Linked DNA regions of Homo sapiens: region 2 is linked to region 1. The links come from fine-mapping of genetic effects on gene expression. Tissue or cell type: fibroblasts. Region 1 holds a variant in brackets; the other region holds the start of a gene. All regions are shown on one strand. Distances are from middle to middle.

Region 1 (8,107 bases):
CCACACACTTTACAAAGAATAATAATATAATCTAAAATTCTCTTTATTGTAAATGCCATACAATTATAACTTCAGGGTGACTTGCTATTTCTTGCAAAATCCAGTACTAGTTTTTATTTTATTTTTTGTTTTTATTTTTTTGAGCTGTAGTCTCGCTCTGTCACCCAGGCTGGAATGCAATGGTGCAATCTTGGCTCACTGCAACCTCTGCCTCCCAAGTTTAAGTGATTCTCCTGCCTCAGCCTCCTGAGTAGCTGGGATTACAGGCATGCGTCACCACGCCCAGCTAATTTTTGTATTTTTAGTAGAGATGGGGTTTCACCATGTTGGCCGGGCTGGTCTTAAACTCCTGACCTCAGGTAACCTACCTGCCTCAGCCTCCCAAAGTGCTGGGATTACAAGCATGAGCCACCATGCCCAGCCTGTTTGCAGATTTTTTAAATGTCTGGTTTAATAAAGGACAGATGAACTCTCTTTTCTTCTGTATCCAAACCATTGCAATAATTTTGTTTTTTGTTTTTTGTTTTTGTTTGTTTGTTTTGAGGCAGGGTCTCACTCTGTCACCCAGGCTGGGCAACATCGTGAGATCCCATCTCTGCAAATAAATAAATAAATAAATAAATAAATAAATTAGTTGGGCATGGTGGCATGCACCTGTAGTCCTAACTACCTGGGAGGCTGAGGTGGGAGTTTGAAGCTGCAGTGAGCTATGATCATACCACTGCACTCCAGCCTAGGTGACAGAGCAAGACCTTGTCTCAAAAAAAAAAAAAAAAAAGTGAGAATACAGCTTTGGGCTAAACTTAATAAGATTAACATTTATTTATTTATTTAATTTTATTATTATTATTATTTTTGAGACAAAGTCTCTGTGTCGCCCAATCTCAGCTCACTGCAACCTCCACCTCCCTGGTTCAAGTGATTCTCCTGCCTCAGCCTCCCAAGTAGCTGGGACTACAGGTGCCTACCACCACACCCGGCTACTTTTTGTATTTCCAGTAGAGACAGAGTTTTGCCATGTTCGCCAGGCTATTCTCGAACTCCTGACCTCAGGTTATCTGCTCACCTCAGCCTCCCAAAGTGCTGGGGTTACAGGTGTGAGCCACCACGCCAGACCCAAGATTAACATTTAAAAGGTAGACTTAGTAACACAGCTTACCCTCTCTATTGTGGGCGGGCCACGTCCAATCTTTTGAAGGCCTGAATAAAACAAAAAGGCTGGCCCTTCTACGAATAAAAGGAACTCCTTTCCTGTCAACCTTTAAGCTGAGACATGAGTTTTTTTCTTGCTTTTGGACATAAAATAAAAACATTAGCTCTTTCTGGGTCTCAAGCCTGCCAGCCTTTGGACTGGAACTACATCATTGTCTCTCCTTCTCAGCCCTTCAGACTAGGACTGGGACTGCACCACCAGCATTCCTGGGTCTCCAGCTCTCTTCAACGAAATCATTTTAGTGTACTGCCTTTTTCTTGAGGGGACCATTACTGATACAGAAAAAGTAATTGAGGCCAGGCACAGTGGCTCACGCCTATAATCCCAGCACTTTGGGAGGCCAAGGCAGGCAGATCACCAGAGGTCAGGAGTTCGAGACCAGCCTGATCAACATGGAGAAACCCTGTCTCTATTAAAAATACAAAAATTAGCCGGGCGTGTTGATGCGCACCTGTAATCCCAGCTACTCGGGAGGCTGAGGCAGGAGAATCATTTGAACCTGGGAGGTGGAGGTTACAGTGAGCCAAGATTATGCCATTGCACTCCAGCCTGGGCAACAAGAGTGAAACTCTATCTCAAAAAAAAAAAAAAAAAAAAAAAAAGAGAGAGAAAAAGTAATTGATTTTCCCCAGATCACAGAGCTTATAAGAGATGAGGTCCAGATTCCAATCCAGTCAACTTGTTAGGAGGGTCTGTATTCTTAACGTCTAAATTCTACAAGAGGGATTTTTTCCCCATAGAGGCACCATTCAGGGTGAGCTGGATATTGTTAGGATTTGGGAGCCGACAGGGGCTATCATTTATTCTCGTTCTTTGACCACATCATAGGCCATTGCCTCTTCTCTGTTTGCTGGTTCATGCAAGACCAGGAGCTCCCCCAGTAAGTGGCCGGAAGGGTAATACCCACCCCCCGCAAGCCAAGTCTCTCCCCATTCTCTTGCTCAGCCTCAGTCACGGGAACCACCCTGTGGTTGATTCATTCTGACAATTATTATAGGTAGCTTAGGAACGGATGGTTGAGTTGTGAGTTGCAGAAACTCGGTCAAGCTGGCTTAAGTTAAACCTGCTGGAAGAACACAAGGGAATTTAAAGGAAGCCAACTGCAGACAGTGCGTCTAGACCTTAGAGGAACTGGAACATTATCTGGTAGCTTCTCCCTACCCCTTGCAATCTGGGGCTTCATCATCTCTCACTTCTTCTCTGTTCAAATCCTCTGCTCAGTTCTCTCTCTGTGACTCTTTCTAGCAAATGATCCAGCCGGAGGGTGTTCTGGAGATTCTGCAAATTGGCAGAAGCGAGGGTGGTCTTGTATGAAGGGTCTGCCCTCTAACTTTGTAGCAGGGTCCTATTTTACTACACTCTCCTTCTGGGCCTCAATTTCTCCATGTGTCAGCATAGGAAGAACTCTCTGACTTAATGGAGTTGGTGACCAAAGGGGTTCCAGGATTTACAAGTATCCTGCGTAATTATAAAAGAGGTACAGAAGCAAAAGGTTTAGTTAAACCATCATTCATTGAAGCCTTTTGTATGCAGGGAAAAGGCAAGGATGACACGATGCCCTCCAGAAGCTCTGGGGTCAGTGGCATAGGTTAAATAAATGCATTGGATGCTGATGAGTAAGGCTTGCAGAGCTTCGTGGGGGGTGTACAGAAAAAATCATCATGGGAGTCTAGAGAAGAGCTAGATTCCCAAGGACCACATCATGTCATCAAAACTCAGGAATCTCCCCTTGCACTGAGATGAAATTAGCCCTCATCACCCAGCCCCTCACCCAAAGACAGGTTCTGCTGTAAGTTAATTCTGGATGCTCCAAGCTTCTCCTTCATCTCTCTTCTTTCTATTCATTCTCTCTCCATTTCTCTTCTGTTTCTTGTTTATAATAAAATGATGGCCAGGCGCAGTGGCTCACTCCTGTAATCCCAGCACTCTGGGAGGCTGAGGCGGGCAGATCTCCTGAGGTAAGGAGTTCGAGACCAGCCTGACCAACATGGAGAAACTCCATCTCTACTAAAAAATACAAAGTGAGCCAGGTGTGATGCATGCCTGTAATCCCAGCTACTCTGGAGGCTGAGGCAGGAGAATCGCTTGAACCCAGTAAGTGGAGGTTGCAGTGAGCCGAGATTGTGCCATTGCACTCTAGCCTGGGCAACAAGAGTGAAACTCTGTCTCAAAAATAAATAAATAAATAAAATAAAATACAATAAAATGATGATGTCTGTAATGGTAATTAAATGATTATTCAAGAGCCGACAACAGAAATCTTCTTGATGGGGTGTGGTGGCTCACACCTGTAATCCCAGCACTTTGGAAGGCTGAGGCGGGTGGATCACAAGATCAGGAGTTCAAAACCAGCCTGGCCAATATGGCAAAACCCCACCTCTACTAAAAATACAAAAAAATTTAGCCGGGCGCAGTGGCGGGCGCCTGTAGTCCCAGCTAACCTGGAGGCTGAGGCAGGAGAATCGCTTGAACCCGGGAGGCAGAGGTTGCAGTGAGCTGAGATCGCACCACTGCACTCCAGACTGGGCGACAGAGTAAGACTCTGTCTCAAAAAAAAAAAAAAAAAAAAGAGCTGGCACCAGAAATCTTCTTAAGGAGGATACTGTTATTGATAAATGACTTGAGTTAGGAAAGGAGACCTGAGGGATAAAGAGTCAGAGTCAAGGGTAGGATGGCTAAATTTCTCTGCGTTGTAAAAAAAAAAAAAAAAAAAAAAAAAAAAGCAGGAATCTGGAGGTGAGGAGATAAGAGGGAGGGTGGACTTTTAAAAGGATGTCTTAAGTTCAACTGGAAGCTTTCATGTTTGTCCGTTGCTGGCCAGTTGCATACTCTAACATTTCCAAGCTTCTTTCTGTAAAGTGTGTTTCATATTTAAATACCTTGTGCAGGTAGCTTTTCAGTAAATTGAAGGAAATGTCTGAGTTCCTCTCTGGGTTAATTTCATCAGGGCAGCAACCACCAGACATTGTGTGAACTGGACTAACTCAGTTGAAGCAAGACTTAGAGCCACAGGTAAAAACACGGGCCCTGGGGGCCCTCCCTTGTGGAGAGGATAATCTGTTTCCCAAAATTTATTATATAAAAGATTAGGCATCAGGTAGATCTCAAGGAAATGAGGGGTCTTCAGCTGACATCTCGATAACTTTATATTTTTACTGAGTTGTTGACCGATAAAGGCTGAGGACTTTATATAAAGTATCTTCTTTTTTTTTTTTTCTGAGCCGGAGTCTCTCTCTGTCACCCAGGCTGGAGTGTAGTGGCGTTTTCTTGGCTCACTACAACCTCCGCCTTCCAGGTTCAAGCGATTCTCCTGCCTCGGTCTCCTGAGTAGCTGGGATTACGGGAGCCTGCCACTACGCCCAGCTAATTTTTGTATTTTTAGTAGAGACAGGGTTTCACCATGTTGGCCAGGCTGTTCTCGAATTCCTGACC[C/T]CTGGTGATCCGCCTGCCTCGGCCTCCCAAAGTGCTGGGATTACAGGCATGAGCCACCGCTCCTGCCCTATATAAAGTATCTTCTTGTATATCTTGTCTGATTTAAGCCATACTCTTTCACACTTCTCCCTCCTCCTTCATTTACCTAGGATGACTATATAATTTATTTTTCACAGCAGGGCACTTTTCAGAATGGAAGTGGACACTACTCATCATGATGCCAGAATGATGGGTATCATTCACTACTCATAATTCAGGACTAATAATAATGGGTATTATTTGGGTTCATTTCAGGCAAACTAGGATGCAGATGACAGCTTCTTCCTATCATTTCCCACCCTGACCACCCAAGGCTGAGGTCCAAAATCAAAAAAGAAGTCAATAATAAACTCATATCTGTTTATTCTCCCCAAATCAGGGGACACAAAGGCTTTTTTTTTTTTTTCTGATGAGTGGGTAATCCTAAAATAAGCAGGAAATGCCTGTGGCTCAGCCTAACTCAAGGTGAGACGAAGCTGGAGCTGGGAGCTCGAAAGTGTCCCCCAGCTCCCTCCTCACTTTGCCTGTAACTCCACCTCTGCAGAAGGTAAAGTAGAATTGGTAGCTGTGTCACTGGTTTGGGTTGAGTCCTCGGTCAGGGCCCTCTCCAGACTGGCGGGAAGGGCGTGGATCAGCCTCTCCCGGAAGTCCTGGCCCATGAAGACATAGAGCATGGGGTTGAGGCAGCTGTTGAAGAAGGCCAGGGCACTTGTCACATCCACTGCAATACCAATTTCTTTGTACATGCCTTGCAATAACTCACGGATTCTGACTGTGGCTATAAGGGCCACCACCTGATATGGGGACCAGCAGAGAAAAAAGGCTGCTGCGACAAAGGAGAGGACCCGTAAGGGACGACTGGACTTAATCAAGCCTTGCTTGTGGATCTTGGTGGCAATAAGCCCATAACTGACAGCAACGATGGACATGGGTGCGCTGAAGCCAATGATGAACCGGATGATGCCTCTCACCGTCAACATGGCAACGGCCACATTTATCCTCTCTTTAGGGTCGTTGGTCCAGGGCGAAAAGTTAAAAGTGCAGGCTACTGTCCCCGTTTTACCAGGTACTGTAGTCACACGAATGATAACTGGCAATGTGAGGAGCAGAGCCATCACCCAGGGCCCAATGATCACCTTCTTGGCCAGGCTCACGGTGCGGTGGTTCTGGGTCCAGACTGGATGCAGGACGCAAACACAGCGGTCCAGAGCAATGAGGGCGATCAGGAAGACACTTCCGAACAAGTTGATGTCCACTATGGTAAAGACGAATTTGCACAGGAACCAGCCGAAAGGCCAATGTCCTCCCATGGCCTTCCTGACCATGAAGAATGGCAAAGTGGAGGTGAAACAGAAGTCAGCCACGGCCAGGTTCAGGTAACTGATGGTGGTGACTGTGTGTGTCATCCGGAATCCAGCCACCCAGATCACAAGCCCGTTGCCCAGGACCCCGAGGACAAAGGTGACTGCAAATACCAGATAAGTGATGATATCCAGGAAGAGATAGCCAGCAGATACAGCAGGTGTCCCTCCAGAGATGTTCGTGGGGAGAGAGGAATTTGTCTCCATCTTGTCTGCTCCTGAAATAGTGCAGTCGTGGTCATTCCTCAGTTATGAACCTCCGTACCATTTCCCCACCCCCTCATTTCTGCCCCTGCCAGTTTTCCCACTCCTAGCTTTCTCACCTTCCCCTAGAGCTCCCACAACAGCCGGAACATCCTCACCACTGTCCCTTACACATGCCCACATCTATACATTGGCAATCTTTTATTGTACCTGTTGGGCAAGATTACATCTTTTTTTTTTTTTTTGAGATGGAATATTGCTCTGTCACCCAGGCTGGAGTGCAGTGGCGTGATCTCTCACTGCAACCTCCACCTCCCGGGTTCAAGCAATTCCCCTGCCTCAGCGTCCTGAGTAGCTGAGACTACAGGTATGCACCACCCCACTCCTGGCTAATTTTCGTATATTTAGTAGAGGTGGGGTTTTGCCATGTTGGCCAGGCTGGTCTTGAACTGCTGACCCCAGGTGATCCACCCACCTCAGCCTCCCAAAGTGCTGGGATTACAGACGTGAGCTACCACGTGTGGCCAAGATTGCATCTTATGACACATCCTCATAATTGCTAACATGCAAGCCCCTACCAGGGAGATTAAATGGCTAAGGAAGATAGGGTCCTTGACCTCCAAGAGGAGAATATGGGGCCAAAGATGTATAGAGAAAACATGTATTCAAACAAAAATGTTCATAGAGACACTCCTCCCTATAGCCAAAAGGTAGAAACAACCCAGATGTCCATCAACAGATGAATGGATAAACAAAATGTGGTTTATCCACCCAATGGAATATTATTCTGCCATAAAAAACAATGAAGCACTGATATATGCTACAACGTGGCTGAACCTTGAAAACATTACTCTAAACAAAAGAGGGCTGGATGTGGTGGTTCACGCCTGTCATCTCAGAGCTTTGGGAAGCCGAGGTAGGAGGGTTGCTTGAGCTCAGGAGTTCATGATCAGCCTGAGCCACATAGCAAGATCCTCATCTCTAACAACAACAACAACAAAATTAAATTAAATTAGCTGGATGTGGTGGCACACACCTGTAGTCCTAGCTACTCAGAAGGGTGAGATGGGAGGCTCACTTGAGCCCAGGAATTCAAGGTTAATAGTGTACTATGATTGAGCCACTGCACTCCAGCCTGGGCAACAAAGCAAGACCCTGTCTCTAAAATGAAAGAAAAAAGAAAGGAAGGAAAGAAGGAGGAAGGAAGGAGAGAAGGAAGGAAGACACCACAAGTCACATTTTGTATGATTCCACTTGTATGAAATATCCAGAGTAGCCAAACTCACAGAGACCGAATGCAGATTAGTGATTGCCAGGGACTGGGGAAACTAGGAAGTGGGGAATTGTTGCTTAATGAATATGCAGTTTTTGCTTGGTGTGATTAAAAAGTTCTGGAACTAGATAATGGTTATGGTTGCAACACACTGTAGATGTACTTAATGCCATTGAATTGTACATTTAAATGGGTAACTTTTTTATTGTTGTTTGAGACGCAGTCTCGTTCTGTCACCCAGGCTGGAGTGCAGTGGTGCGATCTTGGCTCACTGCAACCTCCGCCTCCCGCGTTTAAGTGATTCTCCTGCCTCAGCCTCCTGAGTAGCTGGAATTACAGGCACTTGCCACCATGCCCAGCTAATTTTTATATTTTTGTAGAGATGGGGTTTCACCATGTTGGCCAGCCTGGTCTCAAACTCCTTGACCTCAGGTGATCTGCCCGCCTCGGCGTCCCAAAGTGCTGAGATTATAGGCGTGAGCCACTGTGCCCAGCCTAAAATGGTTAACTTTTTGTATTTTACCATCAATTTAATAAAGGAAAAATAAGAGCATAAGATATCAGAAAATCAGTGGGCGACAGCTT
Region 2 (8,107 bases), 21 kb before region 1:
CGCGAAGAGGCTCTGCGCCACCAGGTGCGCTGAAAGGAAGGCCCCGTAGAGGCCGAAGGCCAGGAGGCCGTAGCGATCGGAGGCCAGCGGCACCCCGGCGGCGTAGGCCCAGGTCATGAGGCCCAGGATGAGCAGGGCGAAGGCGATGGTCAGCACCCTCCGGGCCAGGCCGGAGCAGCGGCAGGCTGCAGGAGTGGGCTTGGGCGCGTCCTGCTGGGAGCGAGAGGGGAAAGGAAGGGGCATGAGTCCCGGGCGCATGAGCCTCCTCCGAGAGAAGATTAAAAATCCTTTCCTTCCTTCCCTCCTTCCCTTTCCCTCCCCTCCCTCTCTCTCTCCCTCCCTCCGTCCTTCCTTCTCTTTATCTTTCTCTCTCTCTGTGTCTGTCTCGCTGTCTCTCTCTCTCTCTCGCTCTCGCTCTCCCTTTCTCTCTCCTTTCGTTTTTTGTTTTTTTTTTCTTTTGAGACAGGGTCTCACTCCAGCCTAGTGTCGCCATCTAGGCTCACTGCAGCCTCAGCTTCCCGAGCTCAGGCTCAGCCTCCCACCTCAGCCTCCCGAGTAGCTGGGACTACAAAGAGTGTGCCACAACTCCTGGCTAATTTTTAAATTTTTGGTAGAGCCGGGGGTCTCCCTACATTACCTAGGCTGGTCTGGAACCCCTGGGCTCAAGTGACTTGCCTGCCCCGGCCTTCCTAAGTGCTGGGATTACAGGCATGAGCTACCTCGCCGGGCCCCAAAATTATTTTCATTAACGAAAATAATTGGAGCAAATAGCTATCTAGGCTTCATGCTGATTAGATTCCTTCTTTTCATTATTATTTATTTTTATAGACAGGGTCTTGCTCTGTCGCCCAGGCTGGGGTGCAGTGGCACCATCATAGCTCACTGCAGCTTCTAACTCCTAGGCTCTGGCGATTCTCTCACCTCAGTCTCCCAAGAAGCTAGGACCACAAGGCTGGAGTCACTATGCCTTGCTAATTAAAAAAAAAACAATTAGAGGAGGGGTCTCACTATGTCTCCTAGGCTCCAGTCTCCCAAAGTGCTATGAATACAGGCATGAGCCACCAAGCCCAGCCTGATTTTGTTTCTTCCAATACAACTTTTTTCCACGTTTTGAAATCTCTTAAATCCGTGAGGATGATTGCATGCGATGGAGTGTCACAATTTAATTACTAGGGCGTTTCCCTCCTCTTTCTTAGTGGCACATACAATGAGGATTTATCTCCCAATCAAAGGTTTCTTAGGGTTGAGACAGTAATAATAATAACACATACTAAAAAACCAAAATGCTGTGTACCAGTCCCTGCTCTAAGCCTTTAAGATGAATGAATTTATTTTAATCTTTACAACAGCGCTGTAAGGTAGGTACTGTTATTATTATCCCCGTTGTACAGATGAGGCAACTGAGTCACACAGAGGTTCAGCAATTTGCCCAAGGTTGTCCCTGGAAAGCAGAGGAACCTGGATTTGAACCCTAGGAACTGAATCTCTAAACCTCTAGCCCTCGGGAGAGCCCTGGGGGACAGATAGTGCTCTGCCACCATACAGGTGGCCAAACTGAGGACTGATTGGCCAGAAGGAGTGGCTTGCACAAGATCAGCAGCCCATGGTAGAGGACTCTTCTCTCTGACTTTCCAGAGGCATAGCCTGGTTCTCCTTTTCCACTGCCCAACTCCCCAGCAGAGCCAGGTGCCCCAGTAAATGTTGCTGGAAGAGCCCAGAATCAGAGGAAAAAGTACTTTCTGTGTGCCAGACACTACTGTACAACAACCTTAATATATATATATAAATTTTTTTTTAAATTGAGACAGGGAGCCAGAAACTGTGGCTCACGCCTGTAATCCCAGCACTTTGGGAGGCGGAGGCGGGTGGATCACCTGAGGTCAGGAGTTCGAGATTAGCCTGGCTAACATGGCGAAAGCAAAATACAAAAATTAGCCAGGCTTGGTGGCGCACGACTGTAGTCTCAGCTCCTCAGAAGGCTAAGGCAGGAGAACTGCTTGAACCCCTGAGGTGGAGGTTGCAGTGAGCCAAGATGGCACCACTACACTTCAGCCTGGGTGACAGTGCGAGACTCCATCTCGAAATAATAATAATAATAATAGAGACAGGGTCTTGCTGTGTTTCTCAAGTTGGTCTCGAACTCCCAGGCTCTAGCGATCCTCCTGCCTTGGCCCCCTAAAGTGCTGGGATTATAGGCGTGAGCTACTGCACCCGGTCTCTACAACAATCTTATAAGGCAGGTACCTTCACTGTCTTCTGTTACAGATGAGGAAACTGAGACACTGAGAGGCAAATACTTTTACCCAAGGTCACTCAGGTAATAAGCAGAGTCAGAAGTAAAACTCAGGCAGTCTGGCTCTGGCGTCCCCTCTACGCTAAACTGCCTCCTATGCCACCAGTTCCTGCCTCAAGGCTTACTGTGGGTTATTTAAATGCGTCGTTAAGATGTAGATCTTTGTGTCCAACACAGGTGTCAGCAGCCACATGTGTCTACCGAGTACTTGAAATGCAGCCAGTATCACCGAGGAACTGAGTTTTAAATTTTATTTAATTTTAATTCATTTAAATTTAAAAACTCTTACTTGATTCGGTTATTGGAAAGATTTTAAATATGTCTGGAACAAGTTGCATCTACGATGCCCCTTTTATAATTGTAAATCTTATAAAATCTAAACACAGATTAGGTATTTCCAGTGAAAAGGTAGCATCTAAGTGAGAAGTGCTATGAACACACTGGATTTTGAAGGCCAAGTCTGGGGAAAAGAAAGTAAAATAGCTCATTAACATTTATGTATTGATTACATATTGAAATGATCATATCTTATATGTAGCAGGGGTCGGCATGCTAAGACCTGCTGCAGCCTGCAGGCTAAGAATTTGTGTGTGTGTTTTTAGATGGTTTTTGAAAGCCAAAAGAAGAATAATAGTTTGTGGAGCATGAAAAATATGAAATTCAAATTTCAGTGTCCTTAAAGGAAGTTTTATTTGCATACAACCACATTCATTTGTTTATACATCATCTGTGGCTGATTCTACATTTACCACATCGAAGTTGAGTACTTTCAAAAGAGACCAGATGGCCCCCAAAAGCCTCAAATATTTAATATTGGGCCCTTTATTTAAAAAAATGTGCTGGCCCCTGACACACTGGGTTAAATAAAAATATATTATTAAAATTAATTTCACCTGTTTGTTTTTACTTTTTCAAATGTGGCCACAAGAAAATTTTAAATTAGATATTGTGGTTTTCGTTACATTTCTAGAGGACAAAACTGAGGTACAGCTTTTAAACTCTCAACATTAAACATTATTCTTTCTTCTCGAATCCCCCTTCTCTCTTCCTTTGCTTCAAACCTGGCCTTGCCTGAGTTCCTAGGGATGGCTCAATTCATGCTGGGGATCCAGAGAGTTGATTCCAGAAACACAGATGAACACACGTGTAGACACACTCCCCCACACGTGAACTCACACATGATGAGTGACACACAGAATGAAATTACTCGTGTTCTACAGGATGACCCGAGACACCCACTCAGGCCAAACACAGCGATCCCGTGACCCCCACCGACGGCCACACAGGTGAACCTGCAGACACACACCCCTCAGCAGGAAAAAGCAACACCAGCAAAGGATGTCCACGTGGCCACAAACACACAGAGCCCCAACTGAGAGTCTGGGGCAATGGGATGCACAGGGAAGATTTCAAGAGAAATAGTAGGTGACTGTCAAGCTGATACTGAACCAGATGAAATTGCTATTCTTCCAAGTTTAGAGTGGCTCAGTATCGGCGATTTCATTTGGTTCAACTTAATAGCTATTGAACGCATGAAACAGAAATCCATTCCCATGTGCCACAGGCAAATCCAACTCTCTTTCTCACTCAGTCTCTTTCATTCGCTCACTGTCGCACTCCCTCTTTCTCTCTGCCTCCCAGGGAACATAGACATACACAAGTTTGTAGCAAGATACGCAGATACAGAAATACGGACATGGCACGTCTCACCTACATGTACTTGGGATGGCCGCTCACACAGGGCAATGTATACACAGACCTGCACACTCAGCCTCACATGCTCACTGTCCCCTACACACATATGGTCACTGTCAGGCACATGGATACACACATGAAATCATGCACACACAGTTCCCCAACACACGTGGTCACACATATGGCAGTAGTTTTCCCCACATGGCTGTATACACACACACACACACACACACACACACACACACACACACCTGTCTCATCGCAGTGGGTCTGGCCGGGCTCTCTCTTCTCTCCGGCTTGCTCTCCCAGCCTCTCTGTGGCCAGAGAGCTGGAGGGGGGTCATTTGAAGACCAGCGCAGGCGGGGGCGGGAGCGAGCGCTGACGTCAGTCAGGCTAAGCTGGGCCAGGGGCTCTGAGGTCACGGCCCAGCCGGGCAGCTCCACCCGCTTCCCGCTATTACTCCCACCCCCCTCAGCCAGACGGGCCTCCCTTCCCAGGCCCCCATGTCTACCCGCGCCCCTCCTCTAGTCCTCTCTGCCATCACTCCCCCTCCTCTCCCTCCCTCCTCTATGTCTTCTTCTCTCTTCCTCCCCCCTCTCGTCCCTTGTCTCCCCTGATTTTTCTCTTCCACCTCACTTGCATTTTGGGGGTTCCCCTCATCCCCCCATCCCCTATCCCTGTATTTCCCTCCATCCCTTTCTTTCTCCCTAACCCACTATTTCTCCTCATCTCTTTGTTGGTACCCTCATCTCTCTCCCCATTACCACATTTCTCCAAGTTTCTGTCTTTCTCTCCATCCCTTTCTTCCTCTCCACTTCTCTTGCCTCCTCTCACCCTCATTTCTTTCTCTTCTTGCTTTAAAGCTCTCCCCACCTCCCCCTTCTCACCTTCCCCAGTCACCCCCGCCCTGCTTCTCCCCACAGCCGCCTCTCCTGTCCCCAGAATCCATCTCTGGGTTGGGCCCCCCAGGGACATGTCTCAGCAACTGGCAGATGGAACGAAACTCACACACGTGCGTGCTGTGGGTGTGCCTGTGTGTACGCTGGCCCGAGGCACGGCTGCCTGGAACCGGAGCTGTGAGTGAACATCTGTCCATTCAGCGCCTAACTGACGTGGGTCTGCGTGTGTGCACCAGGGTCTGGGGTGGAGAGCTGGGGCGCTGGGATTTGTATCCCCAGGGACTCAGGGATGAACACAGAGAGTTGTCGGTCAGCTGACCCTGGGGAGCCAGCCGGGGTCTGTCAGTGCTGTCACCCATCAGGGAAACTGAGTCAGAGGAAGGGTGAAAAGAGATGCGGGACCTGGGGTGCCCGAACCCCAGCCCCTCAGGACCAGATCTGTGATAAATGTCTGTTTACATGCCCTTCTTTCCATGAATTTTTTAAAAAAACTATCTGTATCTAATTCTGTTCTTCTCTCTGCTCCTCTTACTGTGAACTATTGATGTCTCACTTTCGGCCTTGGTAGCTGCCTCGGTAGCTGCCTCGTTCTTTTCTCCCTGCCTGTGACTCCAACGACCTTTGGTGTCTGGCACGGGCCAGCTCCAGGACAGGCTGAAAGACATGGAGCAGCAGAGAGAAATTCCCCCGTGCTTCTCTCTCCTCGTCTGTCCCTCCCCAAATCTCTGTCATTTTGTATCTGTCACCCCATCTCTGTTTCTCGGTCCCTCTATTTGGGTCTCTGCCTCTGTGTATTCCTGTCTGTTTCTCCTCCTCATCCCCCCTCACAGCCATTCTCTCTCTGCTTTTACCTGGGAGTGTCTGTCCCTTTGCATTTCTGAAGTCTCCCTGACTTTCTTCTTGTGTGGCTCTCTTTCTTTCTGAGTGCCTCTCCCTGACTTTCTCACTGTGTGTCCATGTGTGTGTGTCTCTTTCTCTCTGTCTCTTTTTCCCTCTATCTCCCTCCCTCTCTAGCTCTGTCTCTATCCTCCTTCCGTCTCTCTGCATCCCCATCTCTCTCTTTTTTTTTTTTTTTTTTTGAGACGGAGTCTCACTCTCTCACCTAGGCTGGAGTGCAGTGGCGTGAGCTCGGCTCACTGCAACCTCCGCCTCCCGGGTTCAAGCGATTCTCCTGCCTTAGCCTCCCGAGTAGCTGGAACTACAAGCGCCCACCACCACACCTGGCTAATTTTTTGTATTTTTAGTAGAGATGGGGTTTCACTATGTAGGCCAGGCTGGTCTCCAACTCCTGACCTCAAGTGATCCATCTGCCTTGGCCTTCCAAAGTGTTGGGATTACAGGCGTGAGCCACCGCACCTATCTCTTTGTAAGGCTCTATCTCTGTATGTGTTTCTCTGTCTCTGTCTCTCTCATTCAGTTTCTCTCCATTTCTCTGTTTCTACATCTTCGTCTCTCCCTGCAGTTCCATCTCTTCCAGCCTGTCCCGGAGCTCTCCCCTGCCAGACACCAAGTCCTCACACCAAGTCCTCACACCCTGGGGTTTTCCCCGAGGAGGCTGCGCCAGGCCAAGCCTCTGCCTGGGCCTGTCAGGGAGAAGGTGCATTCCCAAGGAGCTCGAACGCCCTTCCCACCCACCAGGGCGGGCCGGGCTGTGTCTGACGCTGTTGCCGGGAGCCGGGCTGCCTGGTGTCTGGCTGTGTCAGGATGATGGGTCCTCAGATGATCTGAGGCCAGCCCAGAGCAGAAGGGGAGGGTGAGTCCTCCGCCCAGTGGGAGGGGGCAGCGCAGGCTCCTCCCCAGAAGTGGGGCATTTGGCTGCCCAGCCCCCACCCCGCCCTGCTCGGGTGGAGCAGCTGTATAAAACCAGATGTTTCTAAAACCAGAGTGCGGTTGAGGAAGGATAACCAGGGCTTTAATCCTCAACAGTTCCCTCCTCTAAGACCCAGGAGTCCAGGTTCCCAGCACCCTCCTCCTTCAGACCCGAGAGTCCAGACCCCAGCCCTTCCTCTCTCAGGCCCAGGAGTCCAGGTTCCCATGTCCCTCCTCCCTCAGACCCAGGATCCCAGACACCCAGCCCCTCCTCCTTCAGACCCAGGAGTACAGGTTCAGAGTTCCTCATCCCTCAGACCCAGGGTCCAGACCCCCAGTCCCTCCTCCCTGAGACCCAGGAGTCCAGGCCCCCAGCCCCACCTCCCTCAGACCCAGAAGTCCAGGTCCCCAGCACCCCTCCCTCAGACCCAGGAGTCCAGGCTGCCAGCCCCGCCTCCCTCAGACCCAGGAGTCCAGGCCCCATCCCCTCCTCCCTCAGACCCAGGAGTCCAGGCCCCATCCCCTCCTCCCTCAGACCCAGGAGTCCAGGCCCCATCCCCTCCTCCCTCAGACCCAGGAGTCCAGACTCCATCTCCTCCTCCCTCAGACCCAGGAGTCCAGGCCCCCATCCCCTCCTCCCTCAGACCCTGGAGCCCAGGCCCAGGCCCCCATCCCCTCCTCCCTCAGACCCAGGAGTCTCAACTCCCAGCTTCCTTCTCCCTTAGACCTACATGTCCAGCCCCCAGAATTTCTTGCAGGAAGAGATGACCAAGGCTGGAAGCAGCCCAGACAAGTGCTGAAAGACAGGGAGCAGTGAAGCTGAACACTCCCACAGCAGGCCGGGGCTGTTGTTGGAGGGACAGGTAGGGACACCGCACCCCTCGCTAACACCCATGGCTCCTAGAAACCCCCATTCCTCTGGTGGCTGCTCTCCAGTTCCTGCCCTGGGTCCACAGTGGCCTTCCCAGCATTTCAGCCATCATCAGGAAACCTCAGGGTACAGCTTACAGAATACCTGGACAGAAGGAGCACAGGGTGGGAGAGGTAAGGCAAAAATGGAGCAAAGGCAGAGGAGAGAACATTCATTCATTGTGGGGACATCTCCTGAGCCCTGGTGGACAGGGCTGGGCTGGGCGATGCCGGGCACACAGAGATGACTCAGCCCTGGGCCCTGCCCTTGGGGAGATGCCAATCTGGTGGAGAAGACAGCTGTGTAAACAGAGGGCCACAAAACAGTACAAGGATGCACCAACCCAGCCCAAGAGTCAGGGAGGGCTTCCTGGAGGAGGTGATGCTGGCTGATGAGGCGTTAGCCGTGGTCAGGGTGGTGGTGGACGGTGGGGCAAGAAAGGGGCATCCAAGGCAAGAAATGGTGTGGCCAGTCAAAAAAGTAAGGGCGGATTGATGCTGT

The links. PIP is the estimated chance that this variant, and not a neighbour inherited with it, causes the effect.
Region 2: it holds the start of HAS1, and the variant in region 1 is fine-mapped to the expression of HAS1 in fibroblasts (GTEx, PIP above 0.99).

What each region holds. Positions count from the first base shown.
Region 1 is chr19:51,740,743-51,748,849 of GRCh38, forward strand. FPR1 (formyl peptide receptor 1) reads right to left here. Exons shown (of 2, transcript NM_002029.4): 2 at 5,031-6,263. The coding sequence starts at 6,252. The coding sequence ends at 5,200. Among named protein-coding and RNA genes, the nearest start is that of FPR1, 7.1 kb to the right of the region's middle. The variant C/T (reference allele first, on the strand shown) is at 4,646.
Region 2 is chr19:51,719,686-51,727,792 of GRCh38, forward strand. HAS1 (hyaluronan synthase 1) reads right to left here and starts at 4,306. Exons shown (of 5, transcript NM_001297436.2): 1 at 4,240-4,306; 2 at 1-210. The coding sequence starts at 4,248.